Linked DNA regions of Homo sapiens. Each later gene encodes a partner of the first gene's protein in a complex. Each region holds a gene or a part of one and is shown on either strand. Other genes may lie near its edges. The genes, in order: TBP, TAF5, TAF1 and TAF6.

Region 1 (6,842 bases):
AAAACTAGAAAATAATTTGGTGAGGGTGATTTTCAAAATCAAAGACCCTATATAGTCATTTGGAACATTCTCATAAGTGTTTATCAAAAGATTAGGTGTTTCATAAATATATAACTTAGCTTCCAGACTTCCCAAATAAACACCATTGTGCCTATTCAAAGCCTAATAGAACTTCTCAACAAAATAAGGCTTAAAAAACATATTAAACCATTTTCAAAAACAGATCATTAAATGCCCTTCCTTGCCTTTTGATACCATCTCTTGCAGTTCAGATTTCCGCCCTCCCTATTCTCTCCCTCCTGCTATATTACCTGAGGGGAGGCCAAGCCCTGAGCGTAAGGTGGCAGGCTGTTGTTCTGATCCATGATGTTCACTTTCTTCTTGGCAAACCAGAAACCCTTGCGCTGGAACTCGTCTCACTATTCAATTTTTTCCTAGAGCATCTCCAGCACACTCTTCTCAGCAACTTCCTCAATTCCTTGGGTTATCTTCACACGCCAAGAAACAGTGATGCTGCTTTGGAAAAAAGTCTAAAGTTTAATTTAAGGATCCAGGTAACCTGTACAGTCCTATAAGCCAGTTCTATGGCTATACAAAACACAAACATGAAAACCAATGAAGCTATTTTGGAATACATTTGTTTTTACCTTATAATCCTAAAGTTTTATTCCTTCCATGTTTCCGGCGATTGCATGTAAAATCGCCAACAAAACAAAAATCATTTTGTTACATGTTTAAATAATCGGAAAATGCTCAAAATCGAGCTGTCATAACCAGCATTAAAAACTTTTGAGGAAAAACACCTAGAGAAAAATAATTCCTAAGCAAAATGTAATATCAGAGCAGAATATTCACTAAGCACTGTATACACAGCACTGTTAGGCAAAGTTTAGATCTTTAAATATTCCAATTTTACATCCTCTACAATGTCTTGGGCAAAAAATTAAGTAAATATCAAATTCAATCCAATATACTTCAGAGTGATCATTTATCAAGCTCCTACTGTAATGAAACTGTTAAAAAAAAAAAAGCCGCACAAAGATAAAGCCCTGAATTTTTATAAATGTAATAACCTTACCTCTTTAGAACACATTAATGCAAACTGTGCCTGTTATCTGACTTTTCTTAAATCATCATCGCTTTACTCACTACACATCTGAAATGAGTTTATAACAACATATTCTCACATAGAACTTAGAGGTCTCAAAGTTACAAATTATATGTCCAAAGATCCTTCAGGCATATGCACTTCAAGCATGTGCTGGTACAGAACAGACACTCAGATATTTGCTGAATGTATGAAAGACTCTGACGATCACTTTGAAAGGGCAAAGGCCCCCAAAGACTATCTATCCTACATACTCATCACTGAAAAACAGACCAAAAAAGAAAGCAAGCTCTGCTTCTGGAAATAAATATATCAGAGATATTTTTTAAAATATACTTTTTTTTTGACAGTTATCCTATAATAACAATAACAGAAGTCCTGCAGATGAGGATATAAAGATAGGAGGATATAGTCCTTGGCATCAAAGTGTTCAATATGAAGGGTATGCAAATAACTACTGTAAAACATAGTATTATAACAGCAGGTATGGTCTAAGCTAAGTTCCTTGAATGCAGAAACCAGCCTACATGTCTTTGTGATCTCTGCATCTAGCACTATGCCTGGAATACAGTATGTGATCATGAATGAGCCCATATACACCCCTGGAAGAGAAGACAATATAGACTAACAGCCAATCACTGTGAAGAGAGCGCAGTGTTTTCACAAAGCAGGGACCATCTAACTTGGGTCTCACAAGGTGAGTAGGAATTTACACATCAGGGCTTCAGACAAAAGAGAAATCAAGCAGAAAGAGACAGATTGAAAAAGCATGCAGTATGCAGGCAACAAGCTTAGTATGACTGTATAGAAGGTCACTGCAGCAGATGAGACAGCACATATTGGTGGGCTCATACTATCAGGAGTTTTCAATGTTATTGCATAGGCAATAATAACAGTTATGGAATTTCGGAAGTGCAGTATGAACAGATCTAATTTGGCAAGACTAGATGAATTTGAGAGGAGTAAAACTGGAGGACGGAAGTTTCGTTTCAGGAATCTAAGGTTGAGGCAAGAGATAATGACGGCAGGATTTAAAGCCATTATAAGTATGATTAGAGATTTATCCAGGACCTTCGGTGGCTTCAGGCCACTTTTTGCAAGTAAGTCTACAGAAGAAACCGCACAGTGATTACTGCACTAATTTATCCTCAGAAAAGAGTTGTTTGCTGGGTATCTTCATCTCCTGGAAATTGAAACATCAAATCCGATATTTTTTGGAGGCAATCAAATTAATTCTGCATAGCCTTCTAGTGTCTGTATAACTAAATGAAGCACAGTCTTTTCACAGAAAAGTCTACCTAGAGATTTGGAAAACCATGATGGCCTGAACCGAGAGACGGGAGACCCTGCAAATAAAGTGGTGTGTATTATATCTTAAGCGCTACCGTGCCCGCTGTCTCAGGCTTCTGACAAAATATTTAAGTCTCAATGTTGGCAGCAAAACAGGCGGGCACAGATCTGGGTGAATCTGCTTCTAACATGGAGAAGAAGCGGATGGCAGGACAGGGCAGGGTAAACTTAGGGTCTTCGATGCAAGGGACTGTCCTGTCCCGCCTGCCGCCGCCCAGCCAGCCAGTAGTACCCTGAGCCCCACAATCGTACGATGGGAAGCTGCCTGCGAAACACAGCAGAGTAGGGCACCAGGCGGGAGTGGCGGCCGAGTGGCCGTTACAGGCCGGAACGGCGGCAGCACGAAAGGGAGGAACGTCCCCCGAGGGGCCTGCACGCGCGCCAATTCCTAGTCTCTTCCCCACCATTGCCCCCAGGCCTCAGTGCAGTGGTGGCCTTCGCCCGAACCGTCAGAAAAGAGTACAATCTGTTACCTGGGTCACTGCAAAGATCACTATGGGCCAGCGGAAGCGAAGTTAAACAGCCGGCGGCCCAGGCGCCCGCCACAGCGAACCTGCCCGACCTCACTGAACCCCTGGCGCGCGTTGATAATGTCACTTCCGCCAGTTCTGCCCTCGGCTTCAGCGAGTTGCTCCCACTAGGGCCGAGGCCATGAGAAGTGTGAGCATAGGTCACTTCCTGTGTTTCCATAGGTAAGGAGGGGCGAAGCTCTTGAGGAGTTCCGGGGCGGGGCCGCCGTGCCACAGCCATCTCTAATTGGCCCTTGCTGGACGTAGGAAAGATCGATTTTTAAATGGCGTGTGTGTGTATATGTGTGAGTGTGTTTTGTTGTTGTTGTTGTTGTTGTTTAAAGCAACTAGCGGCGTTACCTTCGACAAGTTACCTGACCTCTCCCCCGCATTTTTTTTCTGTAAAATTGAATAATGATAACAGTGCTTACCCTTGGGCTGTCGGGAGATTGACAGAGATTGACAGAATCAGTGCCTGAGCAGTGCTTGGCACTCAGTAAGCGCGTCCTCCTTACCTGTCAGCAAGAACGCTAGCTGATCTTCAAGCGTGTAGAATGACAAGGAACACTAAGCAAAACAAACAGCTTGTGTTTACACATGCATTTATATTCAGTTCTGCCACTCCCAGTTCATGCACTGTTGTCACATGGCTCTTTCCGCAGTTGTTTCTTAGTGGGACTTCAGCACGCCTTGATTTTCCCTTCTGTAGTTCATTGTGGCGTAATCATATGTTATACTGCTTGTTTTCTTTGTACTTTTTATTATCAGTGAGGTTGTGAGCTCTTTAAGGATAGGAAATGTTATATACATTTTTTATTAGCCAGGACAATTAACGTTCCCACCGTTATTCGAGTTGCCGTTGCGCCATAGTTCTGACAATTTTTTTGTATGGTCAGACTTAAATTTTTGTCCATTGGGGTGAATTCCAATGTTTTCTTCGAGGGGGAAAAAAACAAAAAACAAACAAAAAAAACCCTTTACATCCCTGTCAGCGCTTTTTGGAATGGGCGGGATTCAACTACCAAAGGGACAAGCCGCCGTGCAGCCCTCCAGGAGCAACGACTAGCGTGAGATAGAGAGGCCGGGAGCGAACTTCAGGAGAAGCCGGAAGTGGCGTAACGTCCGGTCAAGGCAGCCATCTCGCCGTGAGACAGCAAGTGTCGGATCCGCAGGCGCAGCCGTGCGATGTTGTCCTCTACAGCCATGTATTCGGCTCCTGGCAGAGACTTGGGGATGGAACCGCACAGAGCCGCGGGCCCTTTGCAGCTGCGATTTTCGCCCTACGTTTTCAACGGAGGGTAAAAACCCCAGAGAGCTGCGGCTTTCACTTTCGCCCTTCCCCCATCTGCTGAAGCCTATTTAGGAGTCACCGCCGTGATGGCGCTGCCCCGGGCTCCTGCAGGCCTCAGAACCCTGAGCTGAGGGGGTCCGCACAAGGCCGGTCTCCCTGCCGTCCTCTCATGCCCTGTGTTTCCCTCTTCAGGCTCGCTTTGCTCAAGTTTACTTGGTGATTGCGATACAGCCTTGGTTTTTAGGGTTTCCCATTACAGTCATGTCATTTGAGTTTTTATGTGGACCGCCACTCCGTGCTCCTTGCTGCTGTAAGACAGTAAAGTAGAAATTGAAACATAGCCTCTGCTCTGTGGAAGACCATTAAAACTGGACCTCATGTACACGTTTCTTATGCCAGCCGGCGAGGGTAGAGGGTTAGCGTCTGAAACTTAAAAGTTAGGGTTGTTTGGTCTGTGTTGTTAGATGCATAGCTGGGTTGGTAGCCGAGATGTCTAATTGTAGCCGCCTGATTTCTGTTATTTCTAATTGTAGCAGTTTAATCATTTTGTTTTATTTCAAATAGAAGGTGGGATTGGCTGAGCAAACTTAGTTTCATAGATAAGTGCTTTTTTTTTTTAACGTTTAGCTTAAGTTCAGGAAAACAAAATACTCAGAAGATGGACCTTTTAGTATGTGTGTTCTTGTATGTTATGTTCAAGTTTTGGTTTTTATTTTAATTACCAGCTTTATCTTGAGTAGTATAATTTTCCGTGGTGGCACGCCAGAGATTTAGGGTTATAGAAAGATGCTCTGTTTAAGACTCTTGACAGGGAAGAGCTGTAAATTGAAACAGTGGTTATAGTTACCAATCAAGCCTTGTACATTAAAATATACACACGCAATTTGAACGAACCGATGGTTCTTAAAACAGAAAATATTGGCTGGGCAGTGTGGCTCGCACCTGTAATCCCAGGACTTTGGGAAGCCAAGGCAGGAGGATCATCGCTTGAGGCCAGGAGTTGAAGACCAGCCTGCGCAGCATAGCAAGACCCCATCTCTACAAAAATAAATTTTAAAAACAAAGCAAAAATGTTAATTGGTTCCTCATAAATTTGAAATATAAATGCACATTTTGGGAGTGTGTTAGAAAGATAACGAAAGTCTGATTTTAGCCTTGGTTCTGCCACTAAAGGACACTTTGGGTACTTCTGAACTTCTTGAACCTAAATTTCCTTATCTTCCTTAGTAGCTTCATAGTTTTTGGTGAGAATCAAGAGAGATGCATTTTGTAAATTGCAAGCTGTCATCTTATTTAATCCTCATGAAAAGTGAATGTTAGATGATATTAGCATCCTAGGGTTATATTAGACGTTAAACTGTCAGGGTCAGAGAGCTGGTGTGAAGTTGAGCCAGGACTTAATTCATAGCTATTTCACCACTGAGTTTATGGATGCTTTTCCATTATACACCTTAACACTTCCTGTGATGACTAATTAAGTTGTATATTGTAGGGAGGGTTATTGGACCCGTTTCGTAAGGCTATTCTCTATAAATAAGAATTTTCAGTGTTCAGTATGCCCTACTCGTTACTCACTTTTTAATCCCTTGTAATCCAGTTTAAGCCATTACTGCCCTAAAAATTACTTAGATCTTTCTGATTACTTTTTCTCAGTCATTGTTCTTTTTCTTTAGTGTTTACTGCAGCTGGCTCTCAGGCAGCCTTCGCTTCCGCAAAATGAGGCCTCATTCTCTTTTCCTACTCTGTCTTTAAATGTAGTTAAGTCATTAGCCGCCTTGTTTATCGCTCAGCACTCTTTCATGTCTCATTGCTGGGAGGATTACTCCCAAATCTGGTTTTCCAGTTCTGCCTCTCATGAGTCCCTCGATTCGGCTTCTTCAGTAAAACATTTTTAACTGGTTTTTCTGCTCTCAGGGCAACTCAAGACAGCTAGCAAAACAAAAAGCAAGCTAATTATTCCCCTTCATCTCCTCTTCTCCTTTCTTCTTATTTTTTGAGACAGAGTCTCACTCTGTCACCCAGGCCGGAGTGCAGCGGTGCGATCTCAGCTCACTGCAACCTCCAACTCCTGGGTTCACGCATTTCTGCCTCAGCCTCCCGAGTAGCTGGGATTACAGGTGCCTGCCACCACGCCTGGCTAATTTTTGTATTTTTAGTAGAGATGGGTTTCACCATGTTGGCCAGGCTGGTCTCGAACTCCTGATCTCAGGCAATTGACCCCCCCCCCCCCCCTCAGCCTCCCAAAGTGTTGGGATTACAGGTGTGAGCCACCGTGCCCGGCCTCCTCTCCTTTAAAATACTTATAATTATGCCATCATTCTGTTCATCTAAGTTCTAAATCTTGGATGTCATAATTGGTTTTCCCAGTTCCTAAAACATTTGCGTAGATATAAAAATTTGTCTATTTTGTGTGTTTGTGATGATTTTGGATTTACTGTTCACCCTGCTACCTTACTATTGCATTAGTAGTATTAGAACAGTGTTTCTGTCCCATTTCACATACTATGTTATTGTCAGAGCAGTCTTCCTAAAACCCCACTTTGTAAATGGAACTTTTCTCTCTCTTGCATTCCTTTTTTAAAGA
Region 2 (7,026 bases), on another chromosome or scaffold:
TTTAAGAAATGTGATATGTCACTTAAAACTCAACAATTTTTGACCCTAAAATAAAGATGCTATTTTCCCATGCTGTGTAAGCTATGTAAGAATTAAAAAGGAAATGTCTTTTGAAGAAAAAGAAAAAAAAACTACAGACATGCTAATAATTCTCTACCTTTTTCAAGCATAAACACAAAAGATTGATAGTCAGAAGGTTATTACAATTTTCACTGAAATCAGACGTTTCCCTCAAAAATGTATCATCTGGCAAAACCTTATCAAGCAACAAAAAACCTAATTCTCAAAGTTTCGTAATGATGAAACCTTGATGGATGGAAAGCTATTATCTTTTTTTCTTTTCTTCTTTTTTTGAGATGGAGTTTTGCTCTTATCACCCAGGCTGGAGTGCAGTGGTGCAATCTCGGCTCATTGCAACCTCTGCCTCCCATGTTCAAGTGACTTTCCTGCCTCGGCCTCCCAAGTAGCCAGGATTACAGGTGGGCGCCACCACACCCTGCTAATTTTTGTACTTTTTAGTGGAGACAGGATTTCCCATGTTGGCCAGGCTGGTCTCAAACTCCTGATCTCAGGTGATGCGCCTGTCTTGGACTCCCAAAGTGCTGGGATTATAGGCGTGAGCCACTGTGCCCGGCCTGAAAGCTATTATCTATCCAAGTAATATACTGATGGTATTATGAATACAAAACACCCTCCACCCATTTTTACAGTGTTAGAGATCATGAAAAATAGGCAAATACCTATACACATAGGATGACATTGTAATCATACACCTAAAGGGAAGCAAACCAATTTTGAATTTCCTTTTTCATTTACTCTTAGTACTTTTGATTATAGAAAGATTAATCCTCAATTACTAGCTAATATGCCATTAATGTCAGGAATTTGTCTTAAATTTGATGAAGCAGCCAGAAGACACAATGCAGGGACCCAATGAAGCAATTCAACCCCTAATGGAGTTCTATAAAACTAAAGCTTTGGTTGGTTATTTACCATTGGGTAACAAATAAAAATAATTAAAAAAAAAAAAGGGAAATACTAAAGCTAATTTTTAAAACCAGTAAGCCCTGAAACTGTGCATTTTGATTCTATAAATTTGAGTATACAGGCCAGGCACAGTGGCTCACGCCTGTAATCCCAGCACTTTGGGAGGCTGAGGTGGGCAGATCACCTGAGGTTGAGAGTTCAAGACCAGCCTGACCAACATGGAGAAACCCCATCTCTAATAAAAAAATAAAATTAGCCAGGTGTGGTGGCGCATGCCTGTAATCCCAGCTACTCAGGAGGCTGAGCCAGGAGAATCGCTTGAACCCAGGAGGCGGAGGTTGCGGTAAGCCAAGATCACGCCATTGCACTCCAACCTGGGCAACAAGAGCGAAACTCTGTCTCAAAAAAAAAAAAAAAAAAGTGAGTATACATTAAATTGCTACCATGTACAAACACCAGGATTCAAAGATGAATTAGCAAATGGCAAGATTCTAAAAGATGATGAACGTCAGACAACCATGAGATTTTTATCAGAATTTTCCCAGCATTTGCATAATGTTTCCAGTAGTTAACTTTTATATAATTTCAATATAACATAGCAGTATTTAATTTTTATTGTTTGTATTTTACCTATCCGGACTGAAGCTGGCTCCGTAGACAGGCCCACTGTGACCATACAAAATCTTCAACTCACTTGCTGTTTTCTCATCCATGATTCTTTCTAAGACATCATCTGATTCTTTGTCTATAAGACTAAGATCTAAAATGGTCCAGAAATATTGATATTTTATAAGTACATTCATCAAAACTTTTAAAGTAATCATATCACAGTGCAGGAGAGGAATTAACATTTGAAAATTTCCTCCTATATACCAACCGCACTTTGCTAATCCCTCTAAATTAGGCAGTATCATCTCAGCGTGTAAGAGAAGAAAATGACGTTCAGAACAGATAATTTGCTAGAGTGCACACAGCTACTCAGTGTGGGAACCAGAACTGAAACTCAGTTTTGCCCACTATGCCACAGTGTTTCACAAAATGAAAACTATGGGCCAGGCATGGTGGCTCACACCTGTAGTCTCAGAATTTTGGTAGGCCAAGGCGGGCAGATTGCTTGAGCCCAGAGGAGTTCGAGACCAGCCTGGACAACATGGAGAAACCCTGTCTCTACAAAAAATAAAAAATTAGCCAGTGTGGTTGCACACACCTGTAGTCTCAGCTACTCAGGAGGCTGAAGTGGGAGGATCACTTCAGCCCAGGGATTAGAGGCTGCAGTGAGCCGTGATCACACCACTGCATTCTAGCCTGGGCAACAGAGTGAGACCCCATCTAAAAAAAATTTAAAATTAAAAAAAAAAAACCTATGGAAATATTGAAATAATTTAAAATATATTGTTTTATTTAAATAATATAGTTAGTAAAAAACTTTATTTCAGGCCGGGTGTGGAGGCAGGAAAATCGCTTGAACCAGGGAGGTGGAGGTTGCAGTGAGCCACCTATAATTCCAGCACTTTGGGAGGCCAGACAGGCGGATCACTTGAGGTCAGGAGTTCGAGACCAGCCTGGCCAACATGGCGAAACCCTATCTCTACTAAAAATACAAAAATTACCTGGGCATGGTGGTGGGCACCTGTAATCCCAGCTACTGGGGAGCTGGGGAGCTGACACAAGAAAATCCCTTGAACCTGGGAGGTAGAGGCTGTAGTGAGCCAAGACTGCGCCATTGCACTCTAGCCTGGGTGACAGGGCGAGACTCTGTCTCAAAAAAACAAAAAGTAAAAAACTTTCAAATAAAATCCTGACCTTATTTGTTCTTTTTAGCCATTTTTATGACTAAAACAGGAAGTACCATCCCTTATTTAAAGATTTTTTAAGATTTACAAGCAATCATAAAATGTTAGATTTTTAACTTTAAGTTTTTTAGCTTAATACTCACTCATTCTACAGATGAGAAAACTGAGACCTAAAGAAATTAAACCAGTCTAGCACCCCAGTCACTCCAAAGCTTTTTTCACTGTTGGGAATGTTAGAATCTTGAGTTAAAGTAAAATCAAGTGAATTTCTGTAAAGAACACAATCTCCTGTGTATTTTCCATGGAATCAAGATTGGTATAGACTAATGGCAAGTTCACATTCCAAAAGGTCATCTCAGTTACCTGATGCTTGTTTGACACTACGAAGCTTTTTGGGTGTTACCGACCACACTCTGACAGTTGAATCTGCAAAACCTCCAGCAATCAGACTAGAATCATCAGTGACATCCACTGCAGTGAGACCCTGCCAATAAAAGGGTTAGACTAAACAATACTATTTTAGGATATTTAGAGATAGGAAGCAAATGTTAATCATTTTCACACTATACTAAATATCTCCTCAATCCTCTATTTTAAGGAATATATAAAGACTTTTAAAATTCTTGATTTAAAATATTGGCCAAGCGCACTGGCTCATGCCTGTAATCCCAACAATTTGGGAGGCTGAGACAGGTGGATCACCTGAGGTTAGGAGTTCAAGACCAGCCTGGCCAACATGGTGAAACCCCATCTCTACTAAAAATACCAAAATTAGCCAAGCAGGGTGGTGGGCACCTGTAATCCCATCTACTTGTGAGGCTGACGCAAGAGAATCACTTGAACCCAGGAGGCAGAGGTTGCAGTGAGCCAAAATCGTGCCACTGCACTCCAGCCTGGGCGACAGAGTGAGACTCCATCTCAAAAAAAAAATAATAATAAAATAAAATACTAAGTTTGGCCGGGCGCGGGGGTTCATGCCTGTTATCACAGCACTTTAGGAGGCTGAGGCGGGTGGATTGCCTGAGCTCAGGAATTCAAGTCCAGCCTGGTCAACCTGGTGAAACCCCTTCTCTACTGAAAATACAAAAATTAGCTGGGCGTGGTGGCTCATGCCTATAATCCCAGCTACTCAGGAGGCTGAGGCAGGAGAATCACTTGAACTGGGAGGCGGAGGTTGCAGTGAGCCAAAATTGCACCACCGCACTCCAGCCTAGGTGTCAGAGCAAGACTCCATCTCAAAAAATGAAATTAAATTAAAATAATAAAATAAAATAAGGTTTATATGGCTGGGCACGGTGGCTCACGCCTGTAATCCCAGCACTTTGGGAGGCTGAGGCGGCCAGATCACTTGAGGTCAGGAGTTCAAGACCAGCCTGGGCAACACGGCAAAATCCTGTCTCTACTAAAAATACAAAAATTAGCCAGGCATGGTGGAGGGTGCCTGTAATCCCAGCTATTCAGGAGGCCGAGGCTGAGGCACAAGAATCGTTTGAACCCGGGAGGCAGAGGTTGCAGTGAGCTGAGATCTCACCTCTGCACTCCACCCTAGGTGACAGCACAAAACTCTGTCTCAAAAAAAAAAAAAAATTGATAAATAAGTTTACGTAAGTACTTAAACCAAGTTCAACAGAAATGAACTACAATTTGCTCCTCCTCAAAGGCTAGCAGAATTCTGATCGGTGAAACAAATGCCATTAAACATTGACTTCTATCTATTCTGTGCAGTATCCAATTCTCTCTTCCTGAATGCTGTCTTTAAATTGTATAAGAGTTTAGGGGCCACATGCGGTGGCTCATGCCTGTAATCCCAGCACTTTGGGAGGCTGAGGCAGGCGGATCACAAGGTCAGGAGATCGAGACCATCCTGGCTAACACGGTGAAACCCCATCTCTACTAAAAATACAAAAAATTAGCCGGGCATGGCGGTATGCGCCTGTAGTCCCAGCTGCTGGGGAAGCTGAGGCAGAAGAATGGCATGAACCTGGGAGGCGGACATTGCAGTGAGCTGAGATCGCGCCACTGCACTCCAGCTGGGCGACAGAGCGAGACTCTGTCTCAGAAAAAAAAAAAAAAGGAGTTTAAATAACGAAACTCCATTTTAGCTAATACATTTGTTTCTCTCTTAATGGTAAATCATCATCCTACATGACTCTCCAGGCAGAAATCGCCCAATTTTTTTACCAACCTGGTAAGCATTGAGAAATGTATAGAAACAAATGGAGGGTAAGCAGTCCGGCCCAAGGCGCACTCGTTTGGTGGTTTCTTTCATATTCATTATCTTATCCAACTTATCTGAATCTTTCAACTCAGGAAGAGGGATTCTGTGAAAGAAAAAGAGAGTCAAAATTACCTTTTGACTATTAACAAACTTGAACTCTATATAACATGTTGTCTTATACCTCCACACACAAGTTCCTGAAGTTTTTTCCTCACCTGTTCTGAGGTGGAGCATTGGGATCTTGTTTTTTGCTTTTGGATCCAATACTATCTTTTTTAGGCTTCTTCTTTTTAGGTTTTCCTTCTTCATTTTCTCCCTCTTCATCCTCGTCATCCAAAGGTACCTCAATTTCTGGTTCTTTTAATAAACCAAAAAATACCTACAAGTCAAAAGAGCCAACATTTTTAAAATTATTTATTCATTAATATACCCATTTTACATCTTGATAGGATAAATCACAATTACAAAATAGTAATTTACACTCTGAAGCAGGGTTCTGTATTTGTCTACCCAATAGCCATTCTCCCCTTTTTCCTTACTAACAGAACCCTGATTTTATTGGAGTAGCAATGTGCTCAGTTAAATCATTTCTGTTCCCAGGCTCCCTTTCAGCTAGGAATGTCCATATAAGTATACTGGGTATGGTTGTATCAAAAAAATATTGTTTTCCTGATTAAAAAGGGAAAGCTTCAGCAGAGATATGCCTTTTGTCCTCCCCCTTCTTCCTTCTTGGAACGGAGCTGCAATGCTGAAACTGCAACAGCCATTTGTGAGCACAAAGAGGAAAGCCACATTCTGAAGATGGTGGATCAGAAACCAGAAGGAGCCAGGGACCTTGATGGCACTGTGGAGCCTTCATGCCAGCCCTGGAAGGCCTTCCTCTGAAATTCATTTTATGGGAGAAAAATTCTTTGTTTCAGCCACTGCATTCAGGGTTCCATAAAATGCAACCATACCCAAATTGTCACATATAAACATCACCCTTAGAACACAAAATTTTATATACAGTATAAAATTGTTTCCAAGCGGCCAGGCGCAGTAGCTCACGCCTGTTATGCCAGCACTTTGGGAGGCGGAGTCGGGTGGATCATCTGAGGTCAGGAGTTCGAGACCAGCCTGGCCAACATGGTGAAACCCTGTCTCTACTAAAGTAAATACAAAAATTAGCCAGGTTGGTGGCGTGTGCCTCTAATCCCAGCTACTCGGGAAGCTGAGGCAGGAGAATCACTTGAACCCAGGAGGTGGAGGTTGCAGTGAGCTGAGATCACGCCACTGCACTCCAGCTTGGGTGACAAGAGCAAAACTCCGTCTCAAAACAAACAAACGAAAAAAATTGTTTCCAAGCTAGCTATAAGAAAAATGTGTAACTTATGTAGATGGAAATGCTACAATTTTTCATAATCTGCATTATAGAGTTCTTAGGTTCATTCCCATACCTTTGATTTGTTTGCCTCTCGTTTAGCCTCTCCTGCCAAACTTCCCACCATCGCATCTATCTGTTGCTTACTACGCGGCATCCCATCAAAGATGTCAATGTAGAGGTGCTCCTGAACTATGTTCCATATCTGATTGTTCTGTTTCTCCTGAAGATGCCTCTTCAAGAGTTGGTACGAGTCACGGGAAATACGCAGAACAAATTTACTTGTTCGAAAATCCAACATGGTCTCATTCCCTTTCATGTGTTCCTTTTTGGTAAGACTAGATAATACTCGTAGGTCATCCTGGTAATAACATTCCTGATCTCCATGGAACCTGTTTCAGTGATTTTAAAAAGTCATTTTTCAATGTAATCATTAAGGGATCTGCCTTTCCCCCATATACTTATAAACCATCCCAGAATATTTTCAATGTAGTAGTCTAAATAATCCTGAACTAAGCTGTAGGATAAGAAGTAACTCATTTCAAAATGACTATAATTCAGTTTCTGAATTTATTCTAAAAATGAACAAATGTAATTCTCTAATGAAATGTATCACAAACATTTTAAGAAAAGAACTTAAATATCCTAAGTGAAAAATAATATACCCA
Region 3 (7,026 bases), on another chromosome or scaffold:
GTTACAATATTGGTTACTTATCAGAAAGTAGGGCCAGGTGTGGTGGCTCACACCTGTAATCCGAGCACTTTGGGAGGTGGAGGCAGATGATTTGAGGTCAGGAGTTCAAGACCAGACTGGCCAAGATGGTGAAACCCCGTCTCTACTAAAAATGCAAAAATTTAGCCAGCTGTCGTGGCGCATGACTGTAATCCCAGCTACTCAGGAGGTTGAGGCAGGAGAATCACTTGAACCCGAGAGAGAGAGGTTTCAGTGAGCTAAGATCTCACCACTGCACTCCAGCCTGTGCGACAGAGCAAGACTCTGTCTCAAAAAAAAAAAAACAACAAAAAATCGGAAAGTAGTAAATGTAGTAATAGTGTTTGTTTTCTCATCACAACCCTAGGGTACCAGGTACGTGGTGAGTTGGGGGACGATGGGAGATAACGAGTTAGAATGAGTTTTCTGGGTTGCATACTAGTATTATGATTTGGGTGCTTGGGCCTATATCTCCTGGCATTGAGCCATGTGTATAGCCTAAAGTGGGTGTTTGCGGAATTCGAGGAAATATGTTCACAGTTACATGCCAAAGGGGTTTCTCTTCCTTGTTGCAGTGTCTGAAAATGGAGAAGGCATCATCTTGCCCTCCATCATTGCCCCTTCCTCTTTGGCCTCAGAGAAAGTGGACTTCAGTAGTTCCTCTGACTCAGAATCTGAGATGGGACCTCAGGAAGCAACACAGGCAGAATCTGAAGATGGAAAGCTGACCCTTCCATTGGCTGGGATTATGCAGCATGATGCCACCAAGCTGTTGCCAAGTGTCACAGAACTTTTTCCAGAATTTCGACCTGGAAAGGTACATTCTGTGGAGAATGCTCAGATTGCAAACCACTGACCTCTTCCAAATAATGAGTTTTGTTGTTAAGATGCTGAGTATGGAATGGGGTTTCCTTACTCAGTGACATATTATTGGCTACATAAGAGCTCTTCACACTGTATTAGGTCTTTTTTTTAAAGTTGTATGTATTGATAGTAAATGTGATTTATGCTGTTCTCATTGGAAATTTCTCTGTTATCTTAAAAGAACTAGCCCAAATTATTAAGGAACGCTTCTTTACTTTCTTAGACGTTACAAGTCTGAATGCGACACTCCTTTGTTTCTCCCCCACATTTGAAGAGATCTCTCAAGGGAGTTTTCAGGCCCAGATGCTGCTGTTTTCCCATCTGACTTTGAGTCTGTGTCATAGTAATGTATTCTGTGTTCTAGGTGTTACGTTTTCTACGTCTTTTTGGACCAGGGAAGAATGTCCCATCTGTTTGGCGGAGTGCTCGGAGAAAGAGGAAGAAGAAGCACCGTGAGCTGATACAGGAAGAGCAGATCCAGGAGGTGGAGTGCTCAGTAGAATCAGAAGTCAGCCAGAAGTCTTTGTGGAACTACGACTACGCTCCACCACCACCTCCAGAGCAGTGTCTCTCTGATGATGAAGTAGGCAAAATAGAGACCTGAGATTAAGGCCTATGAGAGGAACAAATGAATTCAATGAGTTCTCCCTAATTTATGTCTAAATTGTAAATAATACCATAGCAGATAGAATCTGTGCTAATTTTCAATGAGTAATCATGGGTTCAATCTCAGTGGCTGCCCCTTCCCTATTGTAAAAGAAAAATGTTTGGTGGGGTAGGCGGGGATGAGAGGGGTAGATGGTGATATGCTGCTGAATAAGAAGGTTTGATTGATAGGTGGAATGTGCTATGATACATCTCCATTGTTTACATTCTAACTCCAGGTAAATCATCCTCAGTTTCTCTAAGTTCCCCTCCTGACTGTTAACTCTCTATAGCCTTAGGACATCTGGGATCAGGAAATTCTCCCTGCTCTACTTCTTTCTTCTGTTACAGATCACGATGATGGCTCCTGTGGAGTCCAAATTTTCCCAATCAACTGGAGATATAGATAAAGTGACAGATACCAAACCAAGAGTGGCTGAGTGGCGTTATGGGCCTGCCCGACTGTGGTATGATATGCTGGGTGTCCCTGAAGATGGCAGTGGGTTTGACTATGGCTTCAAACTGAGAAAGACAGAACATGAACCTGTGATAAAATCTAGAATGATAGAGGTGAGCAACACTGGTATGTAAGAAAGGAATCAATGTACTCAGGTCCTATTACTTTTACTAACTTTACTCTTTAATTGGGGAGATACTGGGTGGTAGGGTTTCTTTGGTGGGAGATTGAGGTGTCTCAGCCTTTTATTTGGTATGGTGTATCACCCTGGTAGCTAGGTCCTATTCTAAGGATTCTGTTTGTGAAATGAATGCTGTGCCAGACTAGGAGTGGGAAGAGGCAAATATTCCTCCGTTATCAGGTGGTTGTTTCAAGTAAAGGACCACTTACAATGTGTCTGATGTATCTTTAATGTGGAATTTGGAGTGGAAACCTTGACCAGTGACCAATCAAGGATGTGTTTTTTCTTCCCTACTTACACAGGAATTTAGGAAACTTGAGGAAAACAATGGCACTGATCTTCTGGCTGATGAAAACTTCCTGATGGTGACACAGCTGCATTGGGAGGATGATATCATCTGGGATGGGGAGGATGTCAAACACAAAGGGACAAAACCTCAGCGTGCAAGCCTGGCAGGCTGGCTTCCTTCTAGCATGACTAGGAATGCGATGGCTTACAATGTTCAGCAAGGTGTGCTTCTGTGCCAGCTGTGTCTAGCAGATACTGCCCTTAATCTTAGTCACCATAAGTGGGCTCAGCTGTGATTTTTTTTTTTTTTTTTTTTTTTCGGTGAGACAGAGTTTCGCTCTTGTTGCCCAGGATGGAGTGCAATGGTGCAGTCTCGGCTCACTGCAACCTCCGCCTCCCCAGTTCAAGCGGTTCTTCTGCCTCAGCCTCTGGAGTGGCTAGGATTACAGGCGTGCACCACGATGTCTGACTAATTTTTGTATTTTTAGTAGAGATGGGGTTTCTCCATGTTGGTCAGGCAGGTCTCGAACTCCCGACCTCAGGTGATCACCCGCCTCAGCCTCCCAAAGTGCTGGGATTACAGGTGTGAGCCACCACGCCCGGCTGGCTGTGATGTTCTGAGCTGCCAAGAGATAGTGAAATTTTTAGGATCTGAGGCCTAATTCTAGTCCCTGTAATTTTTATTTTATTTTTATGCTCAACCTGGAGGAAGATAGTCCATGTAATTTTTTGCCCTGTTAAGAAGCTAGGCCAGACTCAGGTTTCTTAAAAACATGTGATAAAGATCTTTTTTTTTTTTTTTTTTTTGAGACGGAGTCTTGCTTGCTCTGTTGCCTGGGCCGGAGTGTAGTGGCGCAATCTCAGCTCACTGCAATCTCTCCCTCCTGGGCTCAGGCGATTCTCCTGCCTCAGCCTCCCGGGTAGCTGGGATTACAGGCATGCGCCACCATGCCCATCTAATTTTGTATTTTTAGTAGCGATGGGGTTTCTCCATGTTGGTCAGGCTGGTCTCGAACTCCCGACCTTAGGTGATCTACCTGCCTCAGCCTCCCAAAGTGCTGGGATTACAGGCATGAGCCACCACGCCTGGCCTGAAGTTAAAGATCTTTCTGAACTATAACAGTACTTTATAGTATATTTTTGTTCCCAAGTCCCTTTGTATTTAGAATTCTAGTTTCCTATTTTTCTCCTTAAATAGGTTTTTTTTTTTAAGGTATGCCATGATTAATGTAAAAAACTTTGAAAATACAGTATAGTGTTAAAGTCACTGGTAATCTATCTGGAGATTATCAACTGTTAAGTTTTGGTGTATTTTCAGTGTTCTGTGTGTGTATGTAGTTGAGCTCATTTCCGTATGTACAGTTTTGCATACTGTGCTTTTCACTTACTAAATATTTTTCTCTCTTTCATTTTTTATTTTTCATTGTTGAGACAGGGCCTCACTTTGTTGCCCAGACTGGTTTCAAACTCCTAGACTCAAGTGATCTTCCTGCCTCGGTCTCCCAAAGTGCTGAGATTACAAGCAAGAGCCACCCCACCCAGCCACATAAATATTTTTGTGTCATTTAGAGTTCTTTATAAAAATGTTTAATGACATGGGAAACTCGTTCATTTTATTTTAATTAAATTATTATTTTTTGTAGAGGTAGAGTCTTGCTATTGTTGGTCAGGCTGGACTCCTGGGCTCAGGTGATCCTCCTGCCTCAGCCTCCCGAGTAGCCAAGACTTCAGGGGCATGCCACCACGTCTGGCTTGAGAAACTCATTTTAAATGGAAATAAAGAAGATATGAAACAACATATATGATATCCTATTAGTGTAAATGAAAAAAAGCAGACTATATAAACATAGAAAGCTGGATTACTTTTATATTTTGGAGGAAAAACAAAATTTTTTCTTTTTTGAGACAAGAGTCTCTGTCGCCCAGGGTGGAATGTGTTGGCGCGATCTTGGCTCACTGCAACATCTGCCTCCCAGGTTGAAGTGATTCTTGTGCTTCAGCCTCCCGAGTAGCTGGGATTATAGGCGTGCACCGCTGTGCCCAGCTAATTTTTGTATTTTTAGTAGAGACGGGGTTTCACCAGGTTGGCCAGGCTGGTCTTGAACTCCTGACCTCAAGTGATCTGCCTGCCTTGGTCTCCCAAAATGCTGGGATTACAGGCGTGAGCCACCACACCCGGATACAAAAATGTCTGATTTTTAAAACCTAAGAAATAGGTTTTTTCCCTTCCATTCTGCCCACTTTATGGGTTATATATTACTATTACGAATGTTTCATAATTTACCGATAACATGTTGCATTTGTTAATACAATTTATTACCATTTATTGTTAGCATACTTTACCATATCATTTATTGTCATAATTTAACCAATTCCTTCTTAAACATTTAGGCTATTTAAATTTCAACTATTATAAACAGTATTGCAGTGGACATTTTTGACTGCAACATTATTTTTATTTATTTATTTTTTGAGACAGAATTTCACTCTTGTTGCCCAGGTTGGAGTGCAATGGCACGATCTCAGCTCACTGCAATCTCTGCCTCCTGGGCTCAGGTGATTCTCCTGCCTCAGCCTCCTGAGTAGCTGGGATTACAGGCATGTGCCACCACACCCAGCTAATTTTTGTATTTTTTGTAAAGATGGGGCTTCTCAATGTTGGTCAGGTTGGTCTTGAACTCCTGACCTGAAGTGATCCACCTGCCTCGGCCTCCCAAAATGCTGTGATTACAGGTGTGAGCCACCGTGCTGAGCCTGCAACATTATTTTAAAGTGAGAAATACACTGTGTAGGTTCCTTTTCAGTGGACACATGAATAACTCCACTAACTCGCTCTACTAACATGAGTAACTCTTTTTATCTTTGCCAGAATCTTGATTGAAAGGGGCATAAATGTTTTCTCTGTTACTATTTCCTCCTTGCACTTTGACTAGGTTTTGCAGCCACTCTTGATGATGACAAACCTTGGTACTCCATTTTTCCCATTGACAATGAGGATCTGGTATATGGACGCTGGGAGGACAATATCATTTGGGATGCTCAGGCCATGCCCCGGCTGTTGGAACCTCCTGTTTTGACACTTGATCCCAATGATGAGAACCTCATTTTGGGTATATTACTGGCAGAGGCCAGTGTTTCTTCTCCTTTGAAAACTTGCTGTTAATGTCAACGGGCAGGAGGAAATCAGAAGGGTTGGAGATGATTAGGACTAGAAACCTGTAGGTAGCGGCTTGAGAGAGCGAAGTTTTGGCTGTTAGTTTATATTATTTGTGTATATGCTTAGGGAACACTCACGTAGGAATGTTGGAAAGTTGCAACTTTGAGATGTCAAGAGCATAGTTTGTTCCGTTAGTGAATCATGGACTCGAAACTTCTAGGTAGCAGTTTGAGAGAGCAAAATTGTGGCAGTTAGTTTTTATTATTTGTGTATTCCCTAGGGAAAACTCATGTAGGACTGTCGGAAAGTAGTACCTTTGAGATGTCAAGCGTGTAGTTCACTTAGTGAATCATGTACTAGAAGTGATTTGGGATGGGATGAAAAGATACAGGTGTAGTTCAGTTAGTAAATCGTGGACTAGAAGTTACCTGGGGGGGGGTGGGATGAAAGGTCTAGTTAAGACCTTCACTGGAACATCCGTCACCTTAAAGAAGAAAACTGGATACTTGTCTGTAGGAAAGGTGAATCTTCAGGGAGAGCAACTCAAGTGATTTTTGTTTTATTCTCAGAAATTCCTGATGAGAAGGAAGAGGCCACCTCTAACTCCCCCTCCAAGGAGAGTAAGAAGGAATCATCTCTGAAGAAGAGTCGAATTCTCTTAGGGAAAACAGGAGTCATCAAGGAGGAACCACAGCAGGTGTGTGAAGAAAAAAGGGGCTTGGTGTTTAGAAGAACAAAGAAAGGTAATAGAGAAGGATAGTCTGACCGAGATTTGTTTGATTATCTATCATTAGAACATGTCTCAGCCAGAAGTGAAAGATCCATGGAATCTCTCCAATGATGAGTATTATTATCCCAAGCAACAGGGTCTTCGAGGCACCTTTGGAGGGAATATTATCCAGGTACAAATAGTGTCTTTTCTGTGATAGAGGAGAACCCCATGGCTTTGTTCTGACGGAGGATATGGGAAAATCTTGCTTAGGATGGAATTAGCTAATTTTAACCCTTCTATTTCCTGTTTTAGCATTCAATTCCTGCTGTGGAATTACGGCAGCCCTTCTTTCCCACCCACATGGGGCCCATCAAACTCCGGCAGTTCCATCGCCCACCTCTGAAAAAGTACTCATTTGGTGCACTTTCTCAGCCAGGTCCCCACTCAGTCCAACCTTTGCTAAAGCACATCAAAAAAAAGGCCAAGGTATAATTGAATTCTGGTTAGAAAACAGCTATAAAGGATATTGGGGTATAAATTAAGGGAATGTACCAGGTATTAGATTGTATTAGGGAATTGGTTATTTTCTCAGATGTGATAGAATGTTATTTTGGTTATTTAGGAGAATGTCTTTATTGTTAGGTGATGCATGTGAAAATATTTAAAGGTGAGGTGTCAGAATGACTGCATCTTTCAAAAACTGT
Region 4 (7,026 bases), on another chromosome or scaffold:
AGAAAAGAAAAAGAAAACATGGGCACTAATGTGTGAATGAACTTGCTAAATACTGTGGCAGGATGGTTAATCAAGAGCGCATTTGCCTTGTACAGAGAAGACCACAGAGTAACAGGAGCATTGGGGAAGGATGGTCCAAATGCCACAGGCTGAGCGTGTTAAACCCTTCTTTTTTGGGGGGCGGTGGTCTCCCTCTGTAACCCAGGCTGGAGTGCAGTGGCACGATCATAGCTCTCTGTAGCCTTGAACTCCTGGGTTCAAGCAATCCTCCCACCTCGGCCTCCCTAGTAGCTGGGACCACAGACACGTCACCACTCCCGGCTTTTTGGTTTTTTTTTTTGCAGGTGGGATCTCGCTACGTTGTCCAGGCTGGCCTCATACTCCTAGGCTCCCAGAGTGCTGGGATTACAGGCAGAAGCCATCATGCCCAGCCCCCTTATTTCTTACTCAGTCTAATCTCAGTCTTTCCATCTGTAAAATAGTATCAGACTCTGCAATGTCCTCTGAAAACATGAGGCAAAGATGGGAGTAAGTGAATAAAATATGCCATATGCTTGCTAAACACTGCCTGTGTCTCAGTGGGCAGGTGTGGGGACAGGGGCTTCAGTCACCAGCAGGAGGCTCTGCACATGGTCTGCTCCAATCCGGTCAATGTTGCTCAGCACAGGGCCGTCCAGCACACTGCGGATCCGCTCCCCTTCCTGCTGCAGCCGGGGCAGAATCAGAGTCTTGATAACCTGTTAGAAGGGAAAAGGACAAGCAAAAGCCGGAGGGTCACCAGGGTCTCCCAGATGGGGGTACAGTGCCCTCTATAACCTCATGACTGTGTCCCCTCCCCCATTTCTTCCTCCCAGAGGCCTAACATCGTGTCCCAGCTCAGCCAAGCCTGCGATGGAGCCATAACGAGTCGTCCAGGGCGTCTTCTCGTCCACCCAGCTCTGTAAGGGGAAGGAAATAAACTAAGATGAAGGGGTCTGAAAGGATGATTGACAGGGACCTAAGTCTTTCATAGACACTTTCCTTGTAAATCATTAAGACATTACAATGAGGCCAGACGTGGTGGCTCACACCTGTAATCCCAGCACTTTGGGAGGCCGAGGCAGGCAGATCACCTGAGGTCAGGAGTTCCAGACCACCCTAGTCAACATGGTGAAACTCTGTCTCTACTAAAAATACAAAAATTAGCCAGTTGTGGCCAGGTGCAGTGGCTCATACCCGTAATCCCAGCACTTTGGGAGGCCAAGGCAGGCAGATCACCTGAGGTCGGGAGTTCTAGAGCAGCCTGACCAACATGGAGAAACCCCGTCTCTACTAAAAACACAAAATTAGCTGGGTGTGGCGGCACATGCCTGTAATCCCAGCTACTCGGGAGGCTGAGGCAGGAGAATCATTGGAACCCAGGAGGCGGAGGTTGTGGTAAGCCAAGATTGCACCATTGCACTCCAGCCTGGGCAAGAAGAGCGAAACTCCATCTCAAAAAAACAAAAACAAAAAAATTAGCCAGTTGTGGTGGCAGGTGCCTGTAATCCCAAGTACTCAAGAGTCTGAGGGAGAAGAATCGCTTGAACCCAGGAGGCAGAGGGTGCGGTCAGCAGAGATTGCACCACTGCACTCCAGCCTGGGCAAGAGCGAGACTCCATCTCAAAAAAAAAAAAAAAAGGTATTACAGACAAGCCTCAAGACCCTTAGACCCCCACAAGTTCCAGTCCCTCTTCCCTCTGCCCCCTTGTTTCCAGTGTGACTTCCCCCAACCAGAGGTGGCCAGTGATGAAGCAAATGACGCTCAAGTTTTCCTGGCTCACCTTGGTGAAGGTCTTGGTGATCCGGGACTGGATGTTGTTAGTGGTTGTGCTAAAATGCTTGCAGATCTGGGCCACCAGGCGGGCAGCAAAGTCTCGGAGTGCCCAGTGATTGTCCACATCTGGTCGCAGGCACAACTGTCTGCTCACGATGCAGGTCATCACAGCTGGAATCAGCTCATGGACCTAAGGGAGAAAGGGCGGGACAGCTGATTCTGGTTTTGTTTGTCTGCTTGAGATAAAGTCTTGCTCTGTCACCCAGGCTGGTGTGCAGGGACACAATCATGGCTAACTGCAGCATCAATCTCCCGGGCTCAAGCAATTCTCCCATCTCAGCCTCCCAGGTAGCTGGGGCCACAGGTGTGCACCACCATGCCTGGCTAATTTTGTTTTGGTTAATTTTTTTTGTAGAGATAGCAGTCTCACTACTGTCCTCAGGCTGTCCTCAAACTCCTGAGCTCAAGCAATCCTCCCACTTCGGCCTCCCAAAGTTGCTGGGATTTCAGGTGTGAGCCACTGCTGACCACTGACTTCCTGTTGGTGGCAGCAGGGTCCCTAGTCCCTGGAAGGGAGGATGGGCAGGATCACTCACGTATTTTTCTAGATAGAGCGTGGGGTTGTCCATCAGCGCTTTCACCATACGCATCAGGTAGATGAGTAGGGCCAGGTTGTTCTGAACCACGTTCACACGGACCTGTGGGAGGGAGAAGTGCTGGGCATGGGGCAGGGAGACCCTCACAGGAGCTTCCACTGCCGTCCCTGCACTGTGGAACCTCATGCTCTCACCCCCTCCGAGATAAAGGTACTGAACCGTGGCAGCATCTGATACAGTCCAGGGTCCGTGGCAATGCTTTGCAGGGCTTCCTGTGGGAGGAGGGAAGCCAGTCAGGTGGGGGTGGGATGTGGGGAGCAATTCATAGGGCCCCCAGGAGGAGGCGTCTCAGGGCCAGGGCAAGCTGGTGGGGCCCTCACCGCCCTCTTGGCCTCGCAGGAGCCCACGCAGGCCTCGGTGATCTCCTTGTAGTAGAGCTGCTGCTCCACAGACAACTCGTGGATGCTCCGGGGCTTCAGTCGCAAGGGGGCCCCCTCCAGCAAGGGCGGCGCCTTCTTCTCTTTCCCTGTGTGATTGGAAAGGTGGGTCTGACAAAGAAAGCTCCAGAAGAAACCTCAGTAACAGAAGAACCTTAACCCTCCACTTCCCCTGAGACCCAGGAGACCTGGCTTCTTCTTAGGCTCCCCCATCCTTTCTGGGGCTCTGGCCCTGACCTCAGCCACTTCACCAATGGCCACATGGAGGCCTGGCATGGTGGCTCACACCTGTAATCCCAGCACTTTGGGAGGCCAAGGCGGGCGGATCACATGAGGCTGAGTTTGAAACCAGCCTGGCCAACATAGCAAAACCCTGTCTCTACTAAAAAAAATTACAAAAATTAGCCGGGCGTGGTGGTGGGCACCTGTAAGCCCAGCTACTCAGGAGGCTGAGGCAGGAGAATCGCTTGAACCCTGGAGGTGGAGGTTGCAGTGAGCTGAGATCGTACCACTACACTCCAGCCTGGGTGACAGAGTGAGACTCTGTCTCAAAAACAAAAAAAAAGGAAACAAAACAAACGGCCATGTGGCTTTGGGCAAGAGTCCAGAGAGGCCTAGCCTAGGAGGACTGACCTTTGCCGTCGGCTGTGGTGGCCCCTTGACCTTTGCCCTTCAGGGGTCCGTCTTCCTCCTGGCCTGGCTTGGCTGACTTCAGGGGTTCTGTGGCTTCAGCCTTCTGTTGCTCTTTGGGAGCTGGTGGGAAAGCAGGCACAGCGGGAGGGGTGATGAGCATAGTAGAAAAGTAAAAGGTGGGAGGAGGCCGGATGCGGTGGCTCATGCCTGTAATCCCAGCACTTTGGGAGGCCAAGGCGGGTGGATCACCTCAGGTCAGAAGTTCGAGACCAGCCTGGCCAACATGGTGAAACCTCGTGTCTACTAAAATTACAAAAAATTAGCCGGGCGTGGTGGTGTGTGCTTGTAGTCCCAGCTACTCAGGAGGCTGAGACACAAGAATCGCGTGAACCCAGGAGGCACAGGTTTGCAGTGAGCCAAGATTGAGCCACTGCACTCCAGCACTCCTGCACTCCAGCACAGGCAACAGAGTGAGACTCTGTCTCAAAAAAAAAAGGTGGAAGGAAGGGGAAAGGGACCCAGAGACCCAGAGGGTGGGGCATGGAGGTTACCTGGGGGCGGGTTCTCGGGGATAGCTGGCTGGCAGCCCTCGATGCTCAGCCAATGAGCTGCAAGGAAGGCAGGTGTCAAGGTGAATTGCCACGCATGGACATTGGGGAGTTGCCCCATGCTATGGAAGCGTGTTTCCACTCCTGCTCCCCTTGCAACTCACCAGGGATCTCACACTGAGCTTTTCTTCTATTGTGAGGCTCCTCACACCTACACACATCTGTCCTCCTTTCCCTCCTCCCTGCCACCCTGCTCTCCCCTCCCCCAACCTTTGAGGCAGACGTCCAGGGGCACCCGGGGCAGAGGGGTATTGATGATGTCGCTCAGATCAACCTCCTTCTCCTCATAGAAGTAAAGCTCCCGGCCCCCACCAGAGGCGAAGCGGAAAGGAATGAACTCCTGGGCGTGGAAGCCATAGAGTGGCTGTGGCAGGAGAGAGGGGCATGGGTAAGAAGGGAGCCGGAGGAGACCTGGCTGAAGGATGGCGTCTCACCCCCCCCCCGCCTGTCTCCCCAAATCACCTCGACATTCTTTAGCTTCAAGGCGTAGTCAATGTCACTGGTGGTGAGCTTCTGCCGCTTCCCCATGTGCATGAACTTCAAGGCATCCTGGGGTCGGTGACAGAACAGACATCAGCCCAAAATCCTAAGGACGGGGCCCTGGGTGACATGGACCCAATGTAGAGCTGGACAGAAGGGCCGGGTCACCTGTGCGATCTCTTTGATGCGGTAGCTGACCTCATCCGTTAGCAGCTGGCAGGTCTCCTCCTGAATCTGGGCGATGCCCATGGATTCAGCCACCACCTTCATGGACTCCGAGGGCAGCACAGTGTTGCTAAGCTTCAGCTTCTTCTCCTCAGCCATTCTGGAGTCCCTCTTCTCCTCCCTGGAAGGATGAAGCCCCCGGTGGAGAGACGGAGACCCTGGCAGAGGAACGGGGCAGGCAGAAGAAAAAGAAACGTGAGACACAGGGAGAGGGCCAACAAAGGGAGGACAGTGGAGACAGGGGAGGAACTCCGAGTGTCTTATGTCCATCCCCACGTGAGTCAGCCCTGAGGTGTAACAGAGAAAGATACAAATCTGGGCTGGGGCCAGGTTCAGTGGCTCACGCCTGTAATCCCACCAGCACTTTGGGAGGACGAGGCGGGCGGATCACTTGAGGTCAGGAATTCGAGACCAGCCTGGCCAACATGGAGAAACCCCATCTCTACTAAAAATACAAAAATTAGCAGGGCGTGGTAGTGCACACCTGTAATCCCAGCTACTAGGGAGACTAAGGCACGAGAATCACTTGAAACCAGAGGGCAGAGGTTGCAGTGAGCCGAGATCACGCCACTGCACTCCAGCCAGGGTGACTCCGTCTCAGGAAAAAAAAAAAAAAAATCTGGACTGGGCCTAGTGGCTCATGCCTGTAATTCCAACACTCTGGGAGCCCAAGGTAGGAGGATCGCTTGAGCCCAGCAGTTCACGACCAGCCTGGACAACACAGTGAGACCCCATCTGTACAAAAAATACAAAAATTAGCTGGGTATGCAGGCACAGGGCTGTTGTTCTAGCTACTCAGGAGGCAGAGGTGGGAAAACTGATAGAGCCCAGGAGCTCCTAGGCTCAAGCAATCCTCACACCTCAGCCTCCCAAGTAGCTGGGACTATAGGTGTGTACCACTACACACAGCCAATTTTTTGCAGGGGCAGGGGCAGAGACAGAGTCTCACTATGTTGTCCAGGCTGGTCTTGAACTGCTGGGCTCACGCAGTCCTCCTGCTTCGGCCTCCCAAAGTGTTGGAATTACAGGCCTGAGCCACCAGGCCCAGCCCAGATTTTTATCTTTTTCTGTTACACCTCAGGGCTTCAATCCCACCACTTTGAAGTTTTGGGCTCAAGCAATCCTCCAGCGTTGGCCTCTCAAAGTGTTGGAATTAAAGGCGTGAGCCGAAGTGTCTGGCCCAGGCTCAGCTTTCCTTATCTTCATAGCAATGCCATCCATCCAGACACTTGTTCTTTATCTGAGCCTTCACATCAAATCCACCAGGTAGGCCAGGTGCGGTGGCTCACGTCTGTAATTCCAGCAATTTGGGAGGCCAAGGTGGGTGGATCACTTCAGGTCAGGAGTTCGAGACCAGCCTGAGCAACATGGTAAAACCCTTTCTCTACTAAAAATACAAAAATTAGCTGGGCATGGTGGCGCGTGCCTGTAATCCCAGCTACTTGGGAGGCTGAGGCAGGAGAATCACTTGAGCCTCGGCAGTAGAGTTTGCAGTGAGTTGAGATTGCGCCATTGCACTCCAGCCTCAGTGACAGATGGACTCTGTCTCAAAAAAAAAAAAAAGGTAAAAAAATAAATCCGGTCGGGCGCGTTGGCTCACACCTGTAATCCCAGCACTTTGGGAGGCCGAGGCGGACGGATCACCAGGTCAAGAGATGGAGACCATCCTGGCCAACATGGTGAAATCCCATCTCTACTAAAAATACAAAAACTAGCTTGGCGTGGTGGCACGCACCTGTAGTCCCAGCTACTCGGGAGGCTGAGGCAAGAGAATCACTTGAACCTGGGAAGTGGAGGTTGCAGTGAGCCAAGATCGTGCCACTGGACTCCAGCCTGGCGACAGAGCGAGACTCTGTCTCAAAAATCAATCAATCCACCAGGTAGTCCAACCTGACTCCTCTGCTCCCACTGCTTGGCCCAGGTCACCATCATCTATCCACTGGGTAACTCCAAAAACCTCCTAACAATGTCAACCGGAGTCTACCCTTGCCTTTCTCTACATCTATTCCTAACGTTGCAGCCAAAATGCTTCTGTCAAACTGTAAAGCAGATTGTCATTTCTTTGCTCAAACCCTCATAATGGCTCTCCACTTGCCATAAAGTAAAACCTGAAATCCTTATAATGGGCAGGTGCAGTGGCTCAGCTCATGCCTGTAATCTGTGCACTTTGGGAGGGTGAGGTGGGAAGACTGCTTGGGCTTAGGAATTCCTGACCACCCTGGGCAACATAGCAAAACCCCATCTCAGGCCAG

The links.
Region 2: TBP (region 1) and TAF5 share a complex: the UniProt entries of both Homo sapiens proteins name them as parts of the TFIID basal transcription factor complex.
Region 3: TBP (region 1) and TAF1 share a complex: the UniProt entries of both Homo sapiens proteins name them as parts of the TFIID-containing RNA polymerase II pre-initiation complex.
Region 4: TBP (region 1) and TAF6 share a complex: the UniProt entries of both Homo sapiens proteins name them as parts of the TFIID basal transcription factor complex.

What each region holds. Positions count from the first base shown.
Region 1 is NC_000006.12:170,550,553-170,557,394, reverse strand, and holds the start of TBP (TATA-box-binding protein), read right to left. Parts: upstream 3,027-6,842; 5' UTR 2,932-3,026; intron 514-2,931; 5' UTR 366-513; coding exon 312-365; intron 1-311. Other genes in the region: PSMB1 (proteasome subunit beta type-1), read left to right, coding at 4,153-4,265. UniProt on the Homo sapiens protein: The TFIID basal transcription factor complex plays a major role in the initiation of RNA polymerase II (Pol II)-dependent transcription.
Region 2 is NC_000010.11:103,377,959-103,384,984, reverse strand, and holds part of TAF5 (transcription initiation factor TFIID subunit 5), read right to left. Parts: intron 6,751-7,026; coding exon 6,435-6,750; intron 5,378-6,434; coding exon 5,214-5,377; intron 5,102-5,213; coding exon 4,966-5,101; intron 3,265-4,965; coding exon 3,144-3,264; intron 1,748-3,143; coding exon 1,618-1,747; intron 1-1,617. UniProt on the Homo sapiens protein: The TFIID basal transcription factor complex plays a major role in the initiation of RNA polymerase II (Pol II)-dependent transcription.
Region 3 is NC_000023.11:71,376,357-71,383,382, forward strand, and holds part of TAF1 (transcription initiation factor TFIID subunit 1), read left to right. Parts: intron 1-593; coding exon 594-835; intron 836-1,246; coding exon 1,247-1,465; intron 1,466-1,878; coding exon 1,879-2,097; intron 2,098-2,467; coding exon 2,468-2,675; intron 2,676-5,386; coding exon 5,387-5,563; intron 5,564-6,179; coding exon 6,180-6,307; intron 6,308-6,404; coding exon 6,405-6,512; intron 6,513-6,634; coding exon 6,635-6,808; intron 6,809-7,026. UniProt on the Homo sapiens protein: The TFIID basal transcription factor complex plays a major role in the initiation of RNA polymerase II (Pol II)-dependent transcription.
Region 4 is NC_000007.14:100,109,337-100,116,362, forward strand, and holds part of TAF6 (transcription initiation factor TFIID subunit 6), read right to left. Parts: intron 6,963-7,026; exon of another isoform or gene 6,510-6,962; intron 4,933-6,509; coding exon of another isoform or gene 4,874-4,932; coding exon 4,718-4,873; intron 4,619-4,717; coding exon 4,532-4,618; intron 4,434-4,531; coding exon 4,280-4,433; intron 4,070-4,279; coding exon 4,013-4,069; intron 3,582-4,012; coding exon 3,462-3,581; intron 2,918-3,461; coding exon 2,772-2,917; intron 2,664-2,771; coding exon 2,586-2,663; intron 2,494-2,585; coding exon 2,392-2,493; intron 1,986-2,391; coding exon 1,803-1,985; intron 939-1,802; coding exon 864-938; intron 738-863; coding exon 612-737; intron 1-611. UniProt on the Homo sapiens protein: The TFIID basal transcription factor complex plays a major role in the initiation of RNA polymerase II (Pol II)-dependent transcription.